Homo sapiens: one gene and its partners. The protein of the gene in region 1 binds, or shares a complex with, the protein of each later gene. Each region holds a gene or a part of one and is shown on either strand. Other genes may lie near its edges.

Region 1 (7,916 bases):
AGGAGGCAACTCTGAGGCGAGGCATTCCGGGGAGGCCACCTGGCTCACGGCAGCCTCTCAGGGAAGCCTGGCAGACCAGGCCAGGTGTGGGGAGCCAGGGGACAGGACCCATGTCGGCCCACAGCCACTCCAGCCCAAGTACCTTAATCAGGTTGTTGCAGAACCAGTAGACGCCGCCCATGTGCAGCAGGGTGTCAAAGATGTGGATGGAGCGGCTGTCCACCCAGCCCTTCTCCAGCACCTTGGCAAAAATGTCCGTCAGCACCTCTTTGATGGGCCGCTTGGGGGGCAGCAGGTTCCAGTAGGGCATTGTGTCCACCCCGGTGGAGGGAAACTTGATCTGCGTGGCTGTCTGCTGCAGCACGTCGGCACACATGCGCTCCAGGATCGAGTTCATGATCACCACCCTGGGGGAGGGCCGAGAGAACCTGAGGCTCAGGTGCCACTGTAGGGTGGGGAGGGAGAGGAGGGAACACCCATGCCAGACTTTCCCTTGGACTTAGGTTACGGAAATCTCCCTGAGGCATTAACCCAGTTTTGCGCTGGGGGACGGTATACCCCGGGGTGACCTGGCCCCTGCTCTGCTCCTGGCAGGTCTCTCACCTGCAGGACACAAAGCCTATAAATAGGGACTGGGGAGGGACTTTCCTCCCCCTGGCCATTCCAGCCAGATATTCACATTTTCTTTTATTCTCCAACTTCCCCCATCCCCCAGGCCTGGGCCCTGCCAACCTGCCACATAAATAAACACAATCACTTCCCCCTAGGCTGAGTGCTTGGGGGTCCCCGCCCAGCCCTGGCCTCCTCCCAAAGTAAACTGTTCCTTCCAGGAGAGGCCCAAGGGCTGCCCCACAGGACTCTTCCCGGCCCCTGGTAGCTGGGCAGATAGAAGTGTATATCCAGGAATTTTCTCATGGAAAGAGGCTTCGGAAGTGAATACAGACCCGGGCCGAGTGCTGACTGTTCCTGGAATGCAGGGTGGCTCTGGGAAAGTTGCTATGACCTTTAGAGCCACTTTTCCCACCTGCACAATGGAGCCACAGACTTCTCACTACCCCTTACCCAGATAGGATTTAGGGTGCTTAGAATGGGTTACACCAGAGCAAAAGCTCCCTACTTGGTAGGGCGGGGGGGAAGGTGGTGGAGAAATGAGAGAAGAAAGGAAAAAAGGAGGAGGCAAGGGGAAAACGAGATGTGCTTTTCCAGACCGTCCAAACCTCATTCAGCTCAATGCTTCCCCTTCTCCCTATTAAGACATCCTCAGGCCCGGTGCGGTGGCTCATGCCTATAATCCCAGCACTTCAGGAGGCTGAGGCGGGAAGATCACCTGAAATCAGGAGTTCGAGACCAGCCTGGCCAACATGGTGAAACCCCATCTCTACCAAAAATACAAAAATTAGCCGGGTGTGGTGGCACATGCCTGTAATCCCGGCTACTCGGGAGGCTGAGGCAGGAGAATCTCTTGAACCCAGGAGGCGGAGATTGCAGTGAGCCTAGATAGTGCCACAGCACTCCAGCCTGGGTGACAGAGCGAAACGCCGTCTCAAAAATAAGTACATAAATAAATAAATAAAGACATCCTCAACGTTGCCATAAAGACATGGCAACACCCAAAACGTATTAGCTGGTAAACACCCATGTTCACAGCAGCACTATTCACTATAGCCCAAAGGTGGAAGCAACTGAAGTGTCCACTGACAGAGGAGGGATCAAGATGTGGTATAGCCACACAATAGAGGTTTCTTTTGTTTTTGTTTTGTTTTTTGAGACAGAGTCTCACTCTTTCACCCAGGCTGGAGTGCAGTGGCGTGATCTCGGCTCACTGCAACCTCCGCTTCCTGGGTTCAAGCAATTCTCCTGTCTCAGCCTCCCAAGTAGCTGGGATTGCAGGCGCCTGCCACCACTCCCTGCTCATTTTTATATTTTTAGTAAGGCCAAGGTTTCACCATGTTGGTCAGGCTGGCCTTAAACTCCTGACCTCAAGTGAGCCACTCACCTCAGCCTCCCAAAGTGCTAGGATTGCAGGCGTGAGCCACCACGCCCGGCCCACAACAGAGTATTATTCAGCCTTAAAAAGGAAGGAATTCCTGTCACGTGCTACTACATGGATGAGCTTTGAGGACACCATGCTGAGTGAAGTCAGTGAGTCACGAAAAGGCAAGGACTGTATGATTCCAGTTAAATGAGGCATCTAAAAAGTAGTCAAATTCAGCAGGGCACGGTGGGTCACGCCTGTAATCCCAGCACTTTGGGAGACCACGGTGAGAGGATCACTCAAGGCCAGGAGTTCAAGACCTGGCAATATAGTGAGACCCTGTCTCTACAAAGACTAGAAAAATTAGCCGGCTGTGGGCCTGCAGTCCCAGCTACTCGGGAGGCTGAGGCGAGAGGATCACTTGAGCCCAGGAATTTGAGGTTGCAGTGAGACTCACTCTGATCTGGGCAAGGGTAAGACCTTGTCTCAACAACAACAACAACAAAAAGTATAAAGTAGTCAAATTCCTAGACACACAAAGTAAAATGGTAGTTACCAGGAGCTGGAGGGAGGGGAAAATAGGAAGCTGTTGTTCAGTGGGTATGGAGTTTCAGAGATGCAAGAAAGTTCTGGAGACCTGTTACACAACAGTGTGAATATACTTAACACTACTGAACAGTACACTTAAACATGGCTAAGATGGCAAATCTTATGTGTTTTTTACAATTAAAAAAAGCAAACAACTTATTGGTTGGGTGAATGAACTCAACGTAACTGGTCACCAGGGAAGTCCTCCAAGCCCCTGAAGAGCCAGGGCAGGAAACTGTCCTAAGAGGTAACTGAGGGTGGGGCATGGCCTGTAAAATCTACAGACAGGTTCCTAGCTCCTAGACAGTCACACAGCTTTGTTCTTTTGGGAGCTAGTTGTCTAGAACTTGAGTCTCTGCGGGCAGACCCTGTTTAGGGTCTGCATTTCTGACAACACAGCAGGTGCTGGCATATAAACGCTTCTGCCACAGAGACACAGTACATGTTTGCTGAGTCAGATGAGTGAATGCATGAATAGGAAAGTGAGTGAGTGATCAAGTAGCGTGTTTGCGAAGGTCAGAAAAGAGAGGGGTGCTTGTTATTGGATGTGCTGACTTCTCACAACACACTTGAAGGGTCTGAGAAGGGAAGGCAGGTTACCGACCTCTCATTGTAGAACTGCAGGGTGTTCTCACTAAACAGTGGCCCTGCCAGCTGGCGGATCATCTGCAGCGACTTCTCACGCTCATCCAGCCCCAGCATCCGGACGTGGGCCACAAGCCAAGCCACAGCACACACCGCCAGACTGCATACCTTCCCTTTGATGTTATCAGTGATTTTCTAGGGGAGACGGAAAGGTGATGGGCTACCATCTATCTCCCTTTCTTGAGCCAACATCACCTTCTCAGCCTCTGCGGGCAGCTAAGTGCAGCGGGTGGAGTCCCGGGCCACATTCCACACCTCTCTCCACAAGTTTGATCTTCCCAGAGCTACCTGGGCCAGAGGGAGTAGCTAAGACAACGATTACACAAAATATCAATATCAAAACATGAGCTCCTGGATTAAAGGTCTTCTTGCCCTTACGAAATATAACAAGTCATCACTGGCTGGCTCTGTGTCTCAGGGGAGCAAACGCTGCTGGGAAGGCGGGGCTACCTGGATGGACTCGAAGGCCAGGACCCCATTCTCCCAGGCATTGAGGATTTCCAAGATGGCGGCTGAGATGCTGAGACAGGCCTCATGCCACTTCATCTGCCTGCGGGTGTGCAGAGAAGTCAGCACAGGGGAGCAAGGAACGGGCTCAGGGAGCGGGTCTTGACCCTGCCCCCACCGCCACCCTTGGAGTGGGCGCCCGGGCCACTGACACTAGCTTCATCTCCGAGGAGTTGTTGAGCAGGGCCACCAGGGACTCCACTTTGGTGGAGTCGGGGCGGAAGCAGGGGTGGTCAGGGTTCAGGATCTTGCCCTCCTCAGGCATGCAGGTCTGCATCCAGGTCTCGAAGAAGGGCACCTCAGCTCCTGTGCGCGACTCGGACAGAATCACCTGGGAAAGGGGAAGGGGGGCACCAGCCGAGTGGGGAGGGCGCGGCGCCTGCCAGCGCTGGACCTGGGGCTGCACTGTTTCCCGCCAGGCTGCTGCTCCAGCCCAGCCCAAAGACTGGGGACGAACTGGTCTAAGGGAGCCAGACGGGGGCAATGCTGCCACCTAGTGGTCAATGTGAACATAGGGCTGAAGGTGCCTCTACGGACTCCAGCCCGGGTGGGCACCTGGTTTCTGAGGCCCACAGAACTAACTGGCTGAGAGGCTGCGGGGGCGCAGGCAGTGAGGTGGGGAGAGTTCCGGGTTACCTCCTTCCCTTGAGCCCCCGTCCCGGTCGCTCCCCTCTCTCACCTCTGAACCATAGGTCTGGGCCACATGGCACAGCATGAGGAAGGAGATGTCAAACAGCAGGGCCCGGACGGAGGCCGGTTTGGCTGTGGAAGGACGGGAAGGCTGAGCTCCCAGACGAGGGCAGGGGGGAGCCCGTGTCTGGGTTGACAGGGATCGGGATTTGCCTCTAGGAAGGTCAGGGACCAAGTGGCTCCTTCAAAGCTCTGAGGCTCAGAATCCTTTTCTTGAGTCTCAACTGGAACATCATCCCTTCCTTGAGACCAAAGACCCCCAGCACCCTCTCCTGGCATACCTAACCAAGTCGTAAAGGGATGAGGGGGGGAAGGAGACACAGGGATGGTCTGGGAAGAATCCTTTTCCAGCATTATCCACTTTCAAGCTCTGTGGAAGCTTCCATTGGTCATGGCTCTGAGGAGGGAGCACAGCCTCCCCCTGTTGAGCTGGGGAGCCCTCCTCCCTCCCACACTCTCCCGCCACACCCCTCCTCAGGGCCCACTGGGCCTGCGGATGCACAGGGCTGACTTACTGCTTTCTTCGCTGCCATAGGTTGTGAATTCATTCAAACTGAAAGGAATGGAGACAGGCTGCATTGACCAGGGCATGAGCTGAGCAGTAGCTGGGCGCTGGGGCTACACATGTTCAGAGAGCGATAGCTAGAGTCTGAGTTACTGGTTAAACTTAAAATGAGACACATTGCTATAGAAAAAAGGTTTTTGTGGTTTTTGTTTTTTGTTTTTTTTTTGTTTTTTTTGAGAAAGAGTCTCGCTCTGTCACCCAGGCTGGAGTGCAGTGGCACAATCTCAGCTCACTGCAACCTCCGCCTCTGTTCAAGCAATTCTTCTGCCTCAGTCTCCCAAGTAGCTGGGATTACAGGTGCCCGCCACCACACCCGGCTAATTTTTTGTATTTTTAGTAGAGACAGGGTTTCACCAAGTTGGCCAGGCCGGTCTTGAACTCCTGACCTCAGGTGATCCGCCCACCTTGGCCTCCCTAAGTGCTAGGATTACAGGCGTGAGCCACCGCACCCGGCCAGAAGGATTTTTATTGTTAGAAGATTTCCAAGGCCTAGAGAATGGCTCACTGAATGGAACCATGTTCTATATATGTCAAATTCCAGGGCAATCAAAAAAGGCAACAGAATTTGAGAGCCCCTTATTAATAACTGGGCATACTTGGAATTCCTCCATGCCCAATGTTCAACACCTCAACCCTTACCCTCATCTCTTTACCAAACATGTCCACTCCATCCTCAGCTGAAGAGAAAGGAACACTTAGGTCGTGAGAACAGGCCCTTCCTCCAAGATCTCCAGCCAGGATGCTCTGCCTAGGCCCGTGGGTCTCTGGATGAGACCCAGACCCAGGCACCTGACTCCTACCCTGCTACCTCCTCCCAACGCGCAGCCTCCCTGCACGCCCTGGGGTCAGGGGCTTGGCCTTCCTCACTTGATGAATTTCCGGGCGAAGGATTTCAGCTTTCCAGTGGCGGCGGCGGCAGCCAGCAGCAAGTCCAGACTCTTCCCGGACAGCATGTGGCCCAGGACTCCCAGCAGTCCCTCCGGTGACTTAGAGTGGTCTGCATCCATCGTCTGGGGACAGGACAGGAAATCAAGTCCTGAAGAACACTGAAGACCCCCCACCCAAGATACAGCCTAGCCACATTTTCTCTCTTCACAACCTGGAATGTAATCTACATCTTTCTGACTTCAATCTGGAAAATCATTCCTAAAACCCACCCCTGCTCTCCGATCCATCCCTCTCATCTACACTGGCATGCAGGTGGTAAGGTTGGAGTGGGCAAGGTCACGGCTAGGATCTTCTCTGTCCTTTCCTTTTTTAGACAGAGTCTCGCTCTATCGCTGAGGCTGGAGTGCAGTGGTGCGATCTTGGCTCACTGCAACCTCTGCCCCCCAGGGTTCAGCGATTCTCCTGCCTCAGCCTCCCAAGTAACTGGGATTACAGGCATGCACCACCACACCCAGTGAATTTTGTGTTTTTAGTAGAGACTGGGTTTCACCACGCTGGCCAAGCTGGTCTCAAACTCCTGACCTCAAGGGATCTTCCCACCTCAGCCTCCCAAAATGCTGGGATTACAGGCGTGAGCCACCGCACCCACGTCTCTGTTGTTTCCATGTGAGATGGCCTAAGTGAAAGCGCCTACTGCAGTGCCTGGTGTACAAATGAAGCTCCCACGGGTTAGCATTCAGTGGTAGCTGCCCTTGCCTCCCCTTTCACTACCTCCAAAGCAACTATGTATAAAAGCTAAAGGAGACAGAGGTCTGTGGCCTCTGTTTATTTATCTGCAAGCAGATGGAGCACTGGAAAGAAGAAAGAGAAGACTGTGGTGGCCAGGGAAGGGCACACTCACCTTGAGGATGTTTGTGACAGTGGGCTCCGCCCGGAGGATCAGCTGGATGTTGGGCTGGATGTTGGCATTCTCTCCCGATTTCTGCTGGGGTGCGTGCTCTCGGTCCGCTTTGCTGTGGACATCACCAGTTGGCCAAGGAAGGGAAGAGGAATGAAGAGAAATTCTTGACACGTTCCCTCGTTCAAGCCCGGAAGGAAATGCGCAGAGGAGGTGGGAAGCATGTAAGAACCTCCGAGGTTGGGGTGAAGTTTATGGAAGCATAGTCAATGTTGCAATCACTGATTTAGCATTAGTCTTTTTTTTTGAGACAGGTCTCACTCTGTTGCCCAGGCTGGAGTACAGTGGCACGATCTCGGCTCACTGCAGCCTCTGCCTCCAGAGTAGCTGGGCGCTCACCACCACGCCTGGCTACTTTTTTGTATTTTTAGTAGAGACGGGGTTTCACCATGTTCTACTGGTCTCAAACTCCTGACCTCAGGTGATCCACCCACCTTGGCTTCCCAAAGTCCTGGGATTACAGGTGAGCCAGCACACCTGGCAATTTATCATTAGTCTTTTTTTTTTTTGAGACAGAGTCTCGCTCTGTCACCCAGGCTGGAATGCAGTGGCGCGATCTCAGCTCAGTACAACCTCTGCTTTCCGGGTTCAAGTGATTCTCCTGCCTCAGCCTCCTGAGTAGCTGGAATTACAGGTGCATACCATCGCGCCTGATTAATTTTTGTATTTTTAGTAGAGATGGGGTTTCACCACGTTGGCCAGGCTGGTCTCAAACTCCTGACCTCGTGATCCACCCGCCTTGGCCTCCCAAATGCTGGGATTACAGGTGTGAGCCACCGCAGCCGGCCTATCATTAGTCTTAAATGCTCTGAAAGCACATTTAAGATTAAAGGAAGATTCAGGATTTTTATTTATTTATTTATTTTTTTTTTGAGACAAGGTCTCACTCTATCGCCCAGGCTGGGGTGCAGTGGCATGATTTCGCCTCACCACAATCTCCGCCTCCTGGGTTCAAGCAATTCTCGTGCCTCAGCCTCCAGAGTAGCTGAGATTACAGGCACACACCACCACGCCCAGCTGATTTTTGTATTTTTAGTAGACATGGGGTTTTGCCATGTTGGGCAGGCTGGTCTTGAACTCCTGGCCTCCAAGTAATCCAC
Region 2 (7,547 bases), about 22 Mb from region 1:
CAATTTAAAGCTTCAGTAATTATATGAAAAGCTATAGTTTCTCTTTCTAAAGTAGCATTTGGTCCTAAAAGTCAAGAAAATAAGGAAGTAATCACATTGATTTGCTCACAATAAAATTGTTTGTGTAACCTTTTAGATTATGATCCCATGTCCCATAAAAGCTAAACAAGTTGGCACTTTTCTCTTATTATGTTTGACAGAACAGTATATGAGTCACTTTCCAAAAATAACTAAATTAACATATGCCTTCATAAGTTAATCAAATAGCACAAATGACAATAACAAAATACATGCCTTAAAACACACACACACACACACACACCACACACACACACACACACACACACACGGATAGTTACATTTCCAGTACTTTTAGAATCATCTGCCTATTCAATGCAAAAGACTCAACTTCAGCAGTGGCTGAAGTGACTCAAAAGTTACATCTGGCTTCTAAACTATTACACGACTTTGTTAGGAACTCTGTTTCCTGATTCCATTTTTTTAGATTAATGTAACATGCCTTCTTCGGGCCCTAACTACCTGTGAGAAATTAAGAAGAGAGGTGGTGGAAGGAGAAAGTCATTCACGCCTTAAAAACCCAGCTATAACAACATGGATAATTTAAGTAAAATAAAATAATCATGGTGAAATAAAACAATGAAGCTGAATTTTTATCTGGCCTCCTAAGTCTCCCACAAAAACAAACTTAATTTGTAATACATATGACATTCTGGGAGAAGTATACAATGTTGCTATATCATTAGTTAGAAATGGAAAGTTTCTTTCACCTGATAAGTCATGGTGAATAAGGTCAGCAAAACTGGGGTCTTCACCCCACCAAAATATCCACAATTCTCTTCTTCCAGGTCTTTGATCTCGCCGCCAAACACCAAGTACATCTGCCTTAAGGCAGCGACTAAAACTGCTCAAAATGGGGTCTTCTTCTGTCACAGGAAACAGAATAGGGGCAGAAGTTGGGCCTTGCCATACATATTTTTTCCACTTAATTCCTGTCAAGTCAGCCTGAAGGAAAGAAAGCATTAAGTTTTATTACTGCATATTCACTCAAAGTCAAAAGTACTCAATATGATGTCTCTTATTTCATTAAGACATTACAATTTTTCAATGTATGCTTGAGATATTGACTGCAAATTAGAACAAAAAAAGACTTTATAATTCAACAACCAAGAATTTTAGGGAGAAGAATACAGTTAAAAATTACCACCACCATGTCACTGAATAGCAAGCAAATATGTACTCCAAGTAGAAACAGAAGAAACTGAATGATGTTAAATATAGACACACACTTCAATATGCAAACAGAGTACATTTTTCTCTGTCCTAACTGGTCACATTTGTTCACTGGTGTCAAACTTTTAACTGAAAATCAATTATTAAAGACCCTATCATGGGTTTTTATTCCACATTTACAGAAGTAACGTCTCTAATGAAAAGACATCTGAACAAGTTCTGAAAAAATCTATGTTAATTCTTCACACACACCCCTGTCGGAAAAGTCAAATAGCTACTCACAAAGAACTGTCAGATTTGTGCTAGTCTATCTTCAAAGAACTGATCCTAAAAGTACCAAAAATAGACTGAGTTGGATAAGATAGAAATATAAAACCTGGTGTATGTCTTATTACATGTGAAGAGATGCTGATTAATGGACATTGAAAAGAAAAACATACTGTAGACGAGGATAGAGTATTAAAGATCTCAATTTAGCATGGGCGTTAAGAAATTCGACAAGAGGAATTCAGTAATTTAATCTAACTTAAAGGAGCAAAGCATAAGGTGCCAAAAATGAAACTGCTGATACATGACTGGCAGTTTACACTTGCCAACTAGTTGTGCTCCTCCCACTTAACTCACTTACCTATCATATACTCTTAATATTTCTCATAGCACAAAGGAGAAAATGAAAAAGTAAAGTCACCCAAACTTAAAGTCATTGATGAAGCTCAGCTACTGTCCCATACAGGACAAGTTATTTGCAACAGTTGGTACTTCTGAAAGCCTTAACTGTTGGATGTTACCAGACCTGGGCTAACCTACACAATGATCATCCCTACATCCCGCTTCTCTCGACTTTCCATTTCAATCAAACAAGGGAGCAGCCTGCTCAAAACATTCTGAAAAAGCAACCAAAACACAATAAATATAGAAACAGTGCAAAACCACAGCACCTCGTCCACTAGCCCCCTTCACTCTCACAAAAACATCATGTTCTAATAAAAGCAAGATGGCTAGAAATTGTCAAAAATGGCAAACTGTTTTCAAAGTTTAAAAAGAAAACATATGAAATGGCACCTACTGGCTTTTACAGAGAGATCTTAAGTCACCCAAGAAAGAAACTAACCTGGCGTTAGTTTGACTCATACAAAAAAAATGTAAAACCAAGACAGGTTTCTAGGGCTTAAGTTCTGGGGTCCTGTTTACATGGGGAAACCAAATTAAAAGGGTAAGACATAAAGGCGGTGGGGAGCAGGGGCAATAATGTAAAGTGTGAAGCAGGGATACAGGGCCAATAAGGAGAAAAGCAACAGTTAAGCAAGACAAGAGGGAAAGGTTACTGTCCTGCCAGATAAGGAGCTCAAGTTGAGGACGAGACTACGGTGAGAAGGAGAGTCCGAAACAAGACGAGAAAAAATGCCAACACTCCCCTAAACAGAGCCCGGGACCGTAGGAGAGCGAACGCCGCCTCCCGGGGCTGGCCGCGGAGCTTCGCAGGGCGCCGGCTCCGGCTGGGCCTCGCCCGGGAACTCGGGCATCTGGACCAGACCCGGCCCCCTCCCCCACGGCCCAAGGGCGCACCTCGCGGCCCCCCTCCCTCGGCGCCCGCCGGCCCCGGCACTCACCAGGCAGAAGAGGTTACAGTGACAATCTTCCAGGCTGGCCCCGTTCGGCACGAAGGAGGCACTCATCGTCCCTCACAGCAGCCGCCGCCGGCGCCACAACCCACCATCCGCCATTACCGCCGCCTCCGACCAGAGAGAGAAACACAGACACCGGGGAGGGCCGGGGGGGGGGTAGTGGTTGGGGGGGCGGTGGAAGAGGAGGCCGCCGGGCGCCCGCCCTCCCCACCCACCCCCCCGCCGCCGCCGCCGCCGCCGCCGCCGCGAGCAGCCCCCGCCGCCCGGCCGGCACCCAGCCGCCCGGGGCCGAGGGCCGGAGGCGGGAGGGCCGCGCCGCGCTCGCCTGGCGGGCCGGACTGCGGATCCCGCAGACGCTCGTCCCTCTCTGGGGGACGGAGGGGATGTGTGCCCCTACCACAAGAAAAATAATAAATTACACAATAAATAATCAAAATCAAGTCCGAGACGGCAGAGCCCAAGCCCAGGACGGTTCTCCCGGGCGGAGAGGCGCCCGCACAGGAGCGGGAAGGGCGAGAACCGGGAGAGAAGCCCAGGCCCCCGGCGCGGCAGCGGCGATGTCCTTAAGCCCAGAGTCTCCTCAGCGGCGGAGGTGGTGGCGGCGTCTGCGGGCTCAGACCATTCTCTGGCTCTGTCTTCGTGTCGTTCCTGGGCCAAGCCGGCCTAAAGTTTGCCCTCCTGTGGCCTCACCGGCTGGACGCCGTAGTCTCCCCCATTTTGTGGGCCCAGCGGGCGGTGTTTTTCCCCCTTTAATCCGAATTCACGGGTTTTCCCTTCGCTTTAATGGCGGCCACAGGGACCAGCTCGCCCTCTCTGCTCACCCATTGGCCGCCTTGAGGTCACGTGGGCCCGGGCTCGGTTGGGAGGGGGAGAGAGAAGTGAGCGAGGGAGGGCCGGGAAGCTTTCGGCGGAGGCGGTGAGCTCGGGGGACGGGGCAGCCAGCTGGTGGCCACTAACATAGCGCCATCTGCTGGGTGCCCCGGCCAGTATAAAACGACCCGGGGCCCTGGCCCTCTCTTTGCGGGGAAATTTACAGTCCAGGAAGGTTCATTTCACAAATCAGTGAGAATTACGTGGAAATCAGTTTGAGTTCTTTGGAAGAGAAAGTATTGGCAAAAATTCCAAGACATTCTCATTTATTTCGCGAGGCCGCTGGGGTGCAGGTGCAAACCTCTGGATTTGGGAGTCAGATGATCTGGATGGGGATAAGACTCCTCAACCTAAAAGTTGTGATATGAAGATATAAATTTAAGAAACAAAATATTGCCCTGTAGTTAATAGACTGGGAATTAGAGCCACACTGCCTGGGTTCCAAGCTTGAGCAAATCACTTCCTGCTCTGTGTCTTTACTCATCTGTAAAATGGGGAAAACATATCCCTTACCCCACAAGCTTATTGTAATGAGTTAATACAAATTAAGCAGGTAGCCCAGTGCCCCGCACAGATAAGCACTGTTAAGAGTTAACTATTATTGTTGTCATCATTACCTCATATAGTTATTGTGACGAGCAGGAGAACTAGTGTATGTAAAGGTCTCACTATTTTTTTGTTGTTTACTTCTGTCTCTCTAGTGCCTAAAAAAAGGTTCCTAGCACACAGTAGGTGCTTGATATTTGTATAGTTACAAATGAATGGGTGGTAAGAAGTAAGAACCAAACAAAAGGTTTATTCTCTTTCCCATAAAACACCCAGTGCTTGGATGGGTTACACTTCAATATGAGTTCAAAACAGTTTCTCTGACGGTTTTAGGATTGCAAGAAAGAAAGAAGAAGAAAAAGATGATTCAGAAGTTAGAAACATCAGTGAGTTAGGACTTACTGTAATTTTATGTATTACAGATACATAATTATGTATTATGTATTACAGATACATAATTGTATCTGTAAAATGAATGGTAGACTCTTCCATGTCACTTCTTCAGCCACGGAATGAAAAGAAGTCCTCATTTATCCACTTGTTCATCTGTGGTGGTGAAGAGCCCAGATCTGAAGCCCAAAGCCTGGAGAAAAAGTTCTGCCCCTCACTAGTTAGTCTTAGATCATATTTGACCTTAGATCAAATTAATTTTGCTTTCTCTCGGTTATTGTAAAATGGGGGTAATAAAAGTACTTTTCTTCTAAAATGACTGGTGAATGAAACAATGTAGATACAGTGCTTGCCACAGTGCTTACTTAATGTTAATTATTAATGTAATTTTAAAAATCATTGAGAACCTGCTGGCTCAATTGAGTGTGTTCCTGCTCTGTGCTAGGCCTAGGATACAAATAGGAATAAGATACCTGCCTGTCCCTCAAGATTCCTGAAGAGAGGCACTAAAGGAAACATTTCCTACAGAATAAGGTAAAATACAATGGGGGTAATTGCTTGAATAAAGTATGTACCTACTATGGCATAGTAAGTGCACTAGAAGAAGAGCATCAAACTTAGAGAAGTTGTCATAAAGTAGGTAGCATTTGAAATCAGATTTGAAGGATAAAATGAATTCTTATAAAGCCCTTTGAAGCAGTTAAATCTTATTAAACCTAATTCGAACCCAAAGTCCACATATCAAAGTCAATTATGCAACCAGGACTAATTCAATCCAGGAGCTCAAATCAACTAAGGTTGGCATCCTTTATAACCGAGTGCCAGCACCAGGAGACAGCAATCCCCAGATCCAATGAGGTAAGCGCTCCTCTGCCCATTTCCCGTTCCCTGAAAAACTCCTCAGATCTTTGTTCCGCTGCTTTCCTCAGGCTGAAATGCCCTCCTCACATCTAAAGGGGTCTCCATTCTCCTTAGAAGTCTTGCCCTCCCATTGCCCCCACCCCCTGACTTGAGCACCATCCTCAGGATTCCAATGGCAGGTAGAATATACCTGAAACCTACCAGTAGGAGGTAACATTTGATTGACCTTTCTGTTTGAATGTCAATCTTTTCAAAAAGAAGAGGGAGACAAGGAGACAGAAGCGAAGAAGGGAGGAAGACCCAGAAGAAAAAGTCTGATGGAGGATCGCAGAAGGGAGCAGGAGAGAGAGAGAAAGACAGGACTGAGAGAATGGAGAAGCAGATTAGAATGGGGGGGATCCCAGTTGTGAGGGGAATGGAATCATTGGGAGAAGGGAAAGAGAAGAAATAAATATTTTCAGCCCACAAAGAACGTATCAGTAACCACTTACATTCGGTAAAAATGACATTTTGTGTGATTTAAAGAGTAATGGAGGCCGGGTGCAGTGGCTCACGCCTGTAATCCCAGCACTTTGGGAGGCCGAGGCGGGCAGATCATGAGGCCAGGAGATCAAGACCATCCTGGCTAACACGGTGAAACCCTGTCTCTACTAAAAACACAAAAAGGCGGGCGCCTGTAGTCTCAGCTACTCGGGAGGCTGAGGCAGGAGAATGGCGTGAACCCGGGAGGCGGAGCTTGCAGTGAGCTGAGATCGCGCCACTGCACACCAGCCTGGGCGACAGAGTGAGACTCCGTTCTCAAAAAAAAGAAAAAGAGAGTAATGGAAATACGGACTTTGGGTATACCATCCTGGTGGGGGATGTTGATAATGAGGGAGGCTGTGTATGTGTGGGGGCAGGAGTTATATGGGATTTTTAAAAAGTAATGGAAATAACTAAAAACATTACACACATATTGTCGGCCAGGTGTGCTGTGTCACGCTTGTAATCCCAGCACTTTGGGAAGCCGAGGCAGGTGGATCACCTGAGGTCAGGAGTTCAAAACCAGCCTGGCCAACATGGTGAAACCCCATCTCTACTAAAAATACAAAAATTAGCCAGGCGTGGTGGCACATGCCTATAGTCCCAGCTACTTGGGAGGCTGAGACAGGAGAATTGCTTGAACCCGGGAGGCAGAGGTTGCAGTGAGCCAAGATCACGCCACTGCACTCCAGCCTGGGTGACAGGGTGAGACTCTATCTCAAAATAAATAAATAAAAACATTACACACACATTGTCAAAAGTTTGGCAGATACATAAAAGCGTAAAGATGAAAATTTTAAATGTACATTACCCAAAAAAGTCCGTATCATTACCATTCATAATTAATCACTTTTTAACATTTTGATGTATTGACTTTTCCCTATGTATCTTTTTCCTACATGGTTGAGATCATACTATATGACCACTTAACTACCCACATGTATTAACCATCTAGTATGTGTCAGGTCATGTATTGACAAAATACAGCATATACAAGCAGCTCATAATCTTGCTTATAATGGCACTTGAACAGTTAGACCAACTGGGGTCAAAACTCCATACTTGGCCCAGCACGGTGGCTCATGCCTGTAATCCCAGCACTTTGGGAGGCTGAGGTGGGCAGATTGCTTGAACCCAGGAGTTTGAGACCAACCTGGGCAGCATGACGAAACCCCCCGCTGCAAAAAAAATAAAAAAATTAGCCGGGCGTGGTGACACGTGCCTGTAGTCCTAGCTACTTGGGAGGTAGAGGTGGGGAGGTTGATTAAGCCTGGGAAGTTAAGATTGCACCACTGCACTCCAGCCTGGGTGACAGAGTGAGACCCTGTCTCAAAAAGCAAGCAAACAAGCAGAACTCCATGCTTGCTAGCTCCCTAACTTCAATTTACCCCTTTGTTGAATGTGTATGTAATAATAGCACCTAAATGTCAGAGTTGTTGCAATGATTAAAAGAGATAATCCAAGTAAAATAGGAGCCAATCA
Region 3 (7,605 bases), on another chromosome or scaffold:
TTTCATGTTAAGGAAGCATCCTATTTCTGTTTTAGTAAGAGCTTTAGTCAAGGATAAATGTTGAATTGTATTAGTTTTTTAATACCTTTACTGCTTGATTTCTTAATATTGACTATATTTCTATAATAAAATCCAATGTCATGTTTTATACTTTCAATGTAATGTTAGACTGCATTTGGTAATAATTCATTTACAATGTTTGCATTAATATTCAAAAGTGAGACTGTTTTTAGTGTTCCCTTTGCTAGATTTTTCTGTGTTATCATGGCTTCATAAAGAGAATTAGAAAGCTTTTCTTCTTTCTGTATGAAATGGAACAATTTCAAAAGGAGATTCTCTTGAAAGATGGAAAGTATTTACCCATGAAATAACACATAGCTCTTGGGTAATACTCTTAACTTGCTTTGGCTTTCAAATTTAAAACCCTGGAGATAACCCAAAAGTACCCCTGGGTTTACTTTTCTCATTCCTAATTTTGTATTTTTGTATCATTCCTTTTTCCCCTGATTTAACTAGCAGTAGTTTGGTCTACTGTTTTTATTTACTCTAAGAATTAGCTTTTATAATTTTTTTCCTTTTAATATATTAGCATCGTTATCTATTTTAAGTCTTTCTGTTTCTTTAGGTTTATTTCATGTTTCCTTCTTAATATTATTAAATAGAATATTTCTATTATCTCTCAATTATTCAGGATATTGATTTTCTAATACATTCAAGCTTTGGTTACATTCCATATATGGTACTATTATGATGTTATTTTCTAGATAGTAAGTAACTGTATTTTCAGTTTCCTGTGGATACCAATAAAGTATCCACAGTTAGTTTTGTAGTTTTTATTTTTGTTACTTGTTCATTAATGCATTCAATTAACCAGCAAATACTTAGTGCCCTTCTAGTTCATTTTGGTCACAGACTGTGTTTTGTTCTACCTCAACTACACTGTGGTTTGCTAATTAATTTCATCCCCACAGAGTCATTTTATGTTTTTAAAAAGATAAATTTCACAAACATTTTATGAGTTTTCCTCACAGAACTCTGTATGGAGAATAAACTAAAAAACTTTATAAATACTGCATTTCATCAAATTTAAGATTACATCTAGGATTCATCATTATTTCATATGCTATGAAAGCAACTGCCATGCTGATTTCAAAGATGTTAAAGTGTGAAAACGTGCATCTTAGAAGCATGAAATATAGCATATTTAATATCAATTGCCCTCTTTCACCAAATTCACCTAAGACAATGGCCTTTCATAATCTTTTCGTTTGTTTTTCCAGAATTGTCTTGTCTTCCACACTCGTTACCTTTTCCAGATAAGAAACTCCATGACTGCTCAAGGGATTTGAGCAAGGCAAAGTGGTCCCTTCTTTTAGGACTATTTGAATTGGGAGAAAAGAATAGTTTCAAAGAAGTACACTTAACTTTATAATAATTTTATATTTGAAAAGTGAAAACATATTTTTAGAATGCTATGAATAAATGAAAGCATAATGAGAACACTATTGAAAATAAGGCAGGATCTTTTTTTTTTAAGTTGAAAAACTGAAAAATCAACAGTCAGCTACTTGTCAATTCTCTCAGCTTCTTTCAGAGTTTATCAGAATATCTCTTCTCCACTACCTAAACTTTTTTTTTCAGGAGCTCTAACTCCAATACCTAAACTTTCGATACTTTAATTTTGCCCAAGCAATATTTCAGTGTGTGAAAACAATGCAACATATATACACACACATATATATATACATACACACACACACATATATATACACACACACACATATGATCAGTGGTAAAGCTTCTTTAACATGTCATCTCCACAGAATCACTTTATAGCAAGAGGAAAACCTGCTTTTCCTTAAATAGGTTACTGAGTTCATTGTTTCTTTTTTTCTCTTTGCAAAGGGCTAAAAAATGAACATCAGGAACAGATCCTATTCACAGAATCGAAATTTAAATTACTTACTAATGCTTTCTTAGCATAAAAAATTATACCAAGATACCTTGTCAAATTCTGTTCATCTTTCAACTATACAGTGGAAAGCCTACTCAAATGTTCAATTTACCCCATAACGCACCTTCCTGCCTGCTTAAACAAATGTATTTAGGGATAAATGTTTTTAATATTATTCTAGCTCTCACATGGTCACTGACAGAAACAAGAACTTATTCATGAAAAAGGTTAAAGAAACAGGTAAACAAAGTCACTGGAAAAATAGGCCTTTAAAACAAAATATAAAGCACAGGCTAATGAAATGGATAAATTTAGAGGGCACCTGCCCTATACCTTATCAATATAAAACTCCATCTAGACATAAAGTACGCGCAAGAAGCGGTTAGTAGGCAGAAACAAGCCAGACTCTCTCCTCTCCTCATAATATTAAATCCACTCAAGATATACAGTGAATGACAAAAGACCACGACGCCGATCACCCGAAGAAACCCCAGGTAAAAGCACGCCACAACTGTCCTGAACAGGTAGCCTCACAGTCTTGAGCTGAGTCACACTTCCCGTACCTGTGCCCACTCTATCCGACCCCCCGCGGCCTAGCTAAACCAAGAATCCGAAATTAAACTCCGAAACGTTCCTTCCCGGGAGACGAAACTCTCTCCCACCCCTCCCCCTCACAGATCCTTCCCTCCCCGAAACTGGGGCTGGGGGCGGGGAGGGGAGTCGCCTCAGAAAAGCGCATCTTGATTCTGACCGCTGCGGTCTCCCGTGAGGACCCCGGCACTCGGAACTGAGCTGGGATCCAGGCCCAGGGGAGTCACAGGCCCCGTCCTCACAGCTCCCCCAAAAACCGGCCCCAGGTGAGAAGACGGAAGATCGCTTACTAGTGGGAGCTCTGCCAAAAGTTCCCTGCCATGGAACACAGCTTGCCCTGATAAAAAAGCACCAGCCGGCGGAGCGGCCCGCGGAGCGACCATAGACCCAGCCCGTCCGGTAACCGCGCTCCTCGATCAAATCAGCTCGGCTCGACTCCGCTCCGCGGCGGCGACGGCGAAAGGAAGAGGATGGCCCCCTAGTCTCCTTCACGCCGGCCGACAACACTCAACTGTGCAAACCCGTTCCTATCGACAAAAGTTCCGGCCCGCGGTAGCGGAGGGAGCCGGAGGGGAGGTGCTGACCCTTGGAGGTGCTGAGATTGAAGAGAACTAGTGTTCACGAGAGCTCGCGGCGGTTGGAAGGCTCTCGCGAGAGCGTCTTGAGAATTCTGGCCGGGGGCCCAAGCCGCTCGGTCTCCTGTCTTCAGCACGGGAGTTGCTGAGTGGGTCTAACCTAGGCGAAGTGGCTCAGATACGGGGTTCTGTTATTACCTCTTCCAGGACTTCAAAAACAGAACAATGTGGCATTGTAATAAAGTACAAGGTTTTGTGACTTATTTTTCCTGTGATTGGAAAGAGAAATAAATGAAGATGACTTTGTTCTCAGGGATCAAGTGTTCCTTTTTTTTTTTTACTTTATTTATTTATTTATTTTGAGACGGAGTCTTGCTCTGTCTCCAGGCTGGAGTGCAGTGGCACGATCCCGGCTCACTGCAAGCTCCGCCTCCAGGAGTTCAAGCGATTCTCCTGCCTCAGCCTCCCGAGTAGCTGGGACTGCAGGCGCGCACCACCATGCCCAGCTAATTTTTGTATTTTTAGTAGAGATAGGGTTTCACCATGTTGGCCAGGATAGTCTCAAACTCCTGACCTCGTGATCCGCCCTCCTCAACCTCCCAAAGTGCTGGGATTACAGGCGTAAGCCACCGCACCCTGCCTGTTTTTTACTTTTGAGACGGAGTCTGGGTCTGTCACCCAGGATGGAATGCAGTGGCACAATCTCGGCTCACAGCAACCTCTGCCTTTCCAGTTCAAATGATTCTGCTGCCTCAGCCTCCCAGGTAGCTGGGATTACAGGGATTACAGGCGCGTGCCACCACGTCCATCTAATCTTTGTATTTTTAGTGGAGAGGGGATTTCGCTAGGCTGGTCTGGAACTCCTAACCTCAGGTGATCCGTCAGCCTCAGCCTCCCAAAATGCTGGGATTAACAGGCGTGGGCTACCAGGCCCGGCCTGGATCAGGCGGTTTTTTTTTTTTTTTTTTTTTGAGACGGAGTCTTGCTCTGTCGCCCAGGTTGGAGTGCAGTGGCGCTATCTAGGCTCATTGCAACCTCTGCCTCCCAGGTTCAAGCGATTCTCCTGCCTCAGCCTCCCAAGTAGCTGGGACTACAGGCTCACACCACCACGCCCAGCTAATTTTTGTATTTTTAGTAGAGACAGGGTTTCACCATGTTGGCCAGGATGGTCTCCATTTCCTGACCTCGTGATCCGCCCACCTCGGCCTCCCAAAGTGCTGGGATTACAGGCGTGAGCAACCGCGCCCGGCCGCGATCTTTTTTTTTTTTTTTTTTGAGACGGAGTCTCGCTCTGTCGCCCAGGCTGGAGTGCAGTGGCGAGATCTCGGCCGCGATCTTAATGGAGTTATTTTGGAGTGATAAAGTGCAAACTTACAGAGCAGCGGAATCAACAGTTTTGCAGAACATCTAAAAATATTCATGCATATATGTATGCACATGTATGTACATGTATGCACCTAATAGAAACATACTGCAAAAAAAGCCATAATTTAATTTTACAAGACGAAATATTTTGTATTTTCCATTTCATTTTCATTGTAGCAATGCATTTATTGTAAAACTTATAATTATTTTTCTAAATAATTGGACACTCCAGAAACTTGTTTATAGACAGTCAGCATCTGAGGCAACTTAAGACAGTATTTTTCACATTGTAGGTGGAGACCAATTAGGGTGTGGTAAAATTAAGTATAATCATTTTCCTAAATAGAACAGAAAATACTAGGTAAATCAGAAATAGCAAGGATATTATATTTAAATTTGGTTCAGTTATATATGTGTGTATATACATACACAAACACACATATACACACACAGTCAAGATGTGAAATGCATTTGTTTGTATGTGAGAATTAGTCTGCATCAGGTGTGGTGGCTCACGCCTGTAATCCCAGCACTTTGGGATGCCGAAATGGGCGGATCACTTGAGGTCAGGAGTTTGAGACCAGCCTAGCCAACATGGTGAAACCCTGTCTCTACTAAAAATACAAAAATTAGCGGAGTGTGGTGGCGTGCACCCGTAGTCCCAGCTACTCGGGAGGCTGCAGCACAAGAATCGCTTGAACCCAGGAGGCAGAGGTTGCGGTGGGCAGAGATTGTGCCACTGCACTCCAGCCTGGACAACAGAGTGAGACTCCAAATCCAAAAAGAAAAAGAAAAAAGAATGAATTAGTCTGGATAAGCTACACTAGGTGAAATTGTGGTAACACCTCCCCACCCCCACCCCTAATCAGCATAGCTTAACATCAAAGTATTTTACATGTCATACGTCACTCCCATAAAGTCCCATAAAGTCGGCTTGCTCTCCTTGGTGGTTGTCTTCCAGATTTTCAAGAATGTAATATTTATATATCCTTCAATTACTCCATCTTGATGGTCTTTACTTCTAGGTTTAAAATCTTTCTAGAGAGAGCACAGAGGACTCATACTAACTCTTACCCAGGGTTAAGAGCCTTGAAACAGAAACAACCCAATCACTTTCTCTCATGGGCCATTGACCAGAATAGACACATGCCTCCAATTTTTAACTGTGAAGAAAGCTGAGGCCAGGCACGGTGGCTCACGCCTGTACTCCCAGCACTTTGGGAGGCCAAGACAGGCAGATCACGAGGTCAGGAGATCAGACCATCATGGCCAGCATGGTGAAACCCCGTCTCCACTAAAATACAAAAATTAGCCGGGCATGGTGGCGCATGCGTGTGATCCTAGCTACTTGGGAGGCTCAGGCAGGAGAATCGCTTGAACCTGGGAGGCGGAGGTTGCAGTGAGCCAAGATCGCGCCACTGCACTCCAGCCTGGGTGTCGGAGTGAGACTCTGTCTCAAAAAAAAAAAAAAAAGAAAGAAAGCTGAGAAATGTAAACGAGTGTGTAGTATACTTCATGAACACTACTGTCTGTTACACTACAGATCACAATAGAAAATATTGGCAGGGCGCGGTGGCTCAGGCCTGTAATCCCAGCACTTTGGGAGGCTGAGGTGGGCGGATCACGAGGTCAAGAGCTCGAGACCATCCTGGCTAACACGGTGAAACCCCGTCTCCACTAAAAACACAAAAAATTAGCCGGGCGTGGTGGCAGGCGCCTGTAGTCCCAGCTACTCGGGAGGCTGAGGCAGGAGAATGGCATGAACCCAGGAGGCGGAGCTTGCAGTGAGCTGAGATCGAGCCACTGCACTCCAGCCTGGGCGACAGAGTGAGACTCCATCTCAAAAAAAAAAAAAATAAATAAAAATATATATATATTTATCTTTATATTTATATTTAAAAGGCACTACCTTAAGAAACTCCAGGCCATGGGCTAGTTCACAGATTCAGGATTTCTTCAACTCTCTCAGGGTTTGTTTTGTTTTTGTGAAACTGGCATCATCCAGAAGATAAGGATACTGCAACGAATTAGTATTACTAATGTTTTATTCTAAGCGATCCTATTATACTTTGTTGCTATTACTGGACTAGCACTTTTTTTTTTTTTTTTTTTTTTTGAGGCAGAGTCTTGCTCTGTCACCCAGGTTGGAGTGCAATGGCTTCAGGCGATTCTCCTGCCTTAGCCTCCCAAGTAGCTGGGATTACAGGTGCCTGCCACCATGCCCAGATAATTTTTTTTTTTTTTTTTTTTTTTTGGATTTTTAGTAGAGATGGGGTTTCACCATGTTGGTCAGGCTGGTCACAAACTCCTGACCTCAGTTAATCCACCCACCTCAGCCTCCCAAAGTGCTGGGATTATAGGCATGAGCCACCGTGCCCCGCAATTTTGTTTTATACCTAATTCTGCACTCTTCTTCCTACAAAACAGTGAGATCCTTCATCTTTGTATAAATCTCTTATAGAATTTGGGGGATGTGCTTTGATATAACATTACGGATACAAAATTATGTTGAAAAGTGAGTACTACATTTAGAATGCAAAAAGAGCCACAACAACTTACTAGAGCTGTGGAAATTCAGGTCCTTTCCTTCTGTGAACTCTTTTAGGCAATTTACCACAAGTGCTACATAGAACCTCTTCCTGTTTGTGACCTGGTTTCTGCTTCCACCAAATGCCCAGCAGCTCCCAGTGCTCATGGGGGCTGTGCAAGTGACAGGCCTGGAGCTTAGGCTTCCTTAGTTTCAGAGTAAATTGCTTTTGAGGTCATTCTATAAATGTAGGTTGAATTAAATTGACTTGAACCAAAAGCTAACTTCATTTAAGGATATCTCTAGTGGAATAGATAAATTTACAAAAGCTGTTAAAATACATAGATATCCCAGCTTACCTGGATGCAAAAAGATCATGAGCTATCTAGCAGATTTGCCTTTTTTCGCTGATGATTTTTTAAACTTTTCTTTATAATTTTAGGAGTATTGTTTTTCAGACCTCACTACCCACTAATTTAAACTTGATGAAATAAATTAATGTTGTCCCTTCCAATTTTCAACTTACCTTGTGCTTTTCAAATGGGATGAGTTCAATAAATTCTTTTTAAAAAATTTTTTATTTTTCATTTTTG

Evidence for each region. Proteins that work in one complex are often made in the same cells at the same time.
Region 2: MED24 (region 1) and MED13 share a complex: the UniProt entries of both Homo sapiens proteins name them as parts of the mediator complex.
Region 3: MED24 (region 1) and CCNC share a complex: the UniProt entries of both Homo sapiens proteins name them as parts of the mediator complex.

The regions. Positions count from the first base shown.
Region 1 is NC_000017.11:40,022,989-40,030,904, forward strand, and holds part of MED24 (mediator of RNA polymerase II transcription subunit 24), read right to left. Parts: intron 6,872-7,916; coding exon 6,760-6,871; intron 5,981-6,759; coding exon 5,838-5,980; intron 4,959-5,837; coding exon 4,921-4,958; intron 4,658-4,920; exon of another isoform or gene 4,554-4,657; intron 4,478-4,553; coding exon 4,395-4,477; intron 4,047-4,394; coding exon 3,868-4,046; intron 3,759-3,867; coding exon 3,659-3,758; intron 3,422-3,658; exon of another isoform or gene 3,344-3,421; coding exon 3,168-3,343; intron 408-3,167; coding exon 143-407; intron 1-142. UniProt on the Homo sapiens protein: Component of the Mediator complex, a coactivator involved in the regulated transcription of nearly all RNA polymerase II-dependent genes.
Region 2 is NC_000017.11:62,062,279-62,069,825, forward strand, and holds the start of MED13 (mediator of RNA polymerase II transcription subunit 13), read right to left. Parts: upstream 3,001-7,547; 5' UTR 2,928-3,000; coding exon 2,862-2,927; intron 1,024-2,861; coding exon 789-1,023; intron 1-788. UniProt on the Homo sapiens protein: Component of the Mediator complex, a coactivator involved in the regulated transcription of nearly all RNA polymerase II-dependent genes.
Region 3 is NC_000006.12:99,565,661-99,573,265, forward strand, and holds the start of CCNC (cyclin-C), read right to left. Parts: upstream 3,001-7,605; 5' UTR 2,868-3,000; coding exon 2,836-2,867; exon of another isoform or gene 1,906-2,835; intron 1,379-1,905; exon of another isoform or gene 1,258-1,378; coding exon of another isoform or gene 1,238-1,257; intron 1-1,237. UniProt on the Homo sapiens protein: Component of the Mediator complex, a coactivator involved in regulated gene transcription of nearly all RNA polymerase II-dependent genes.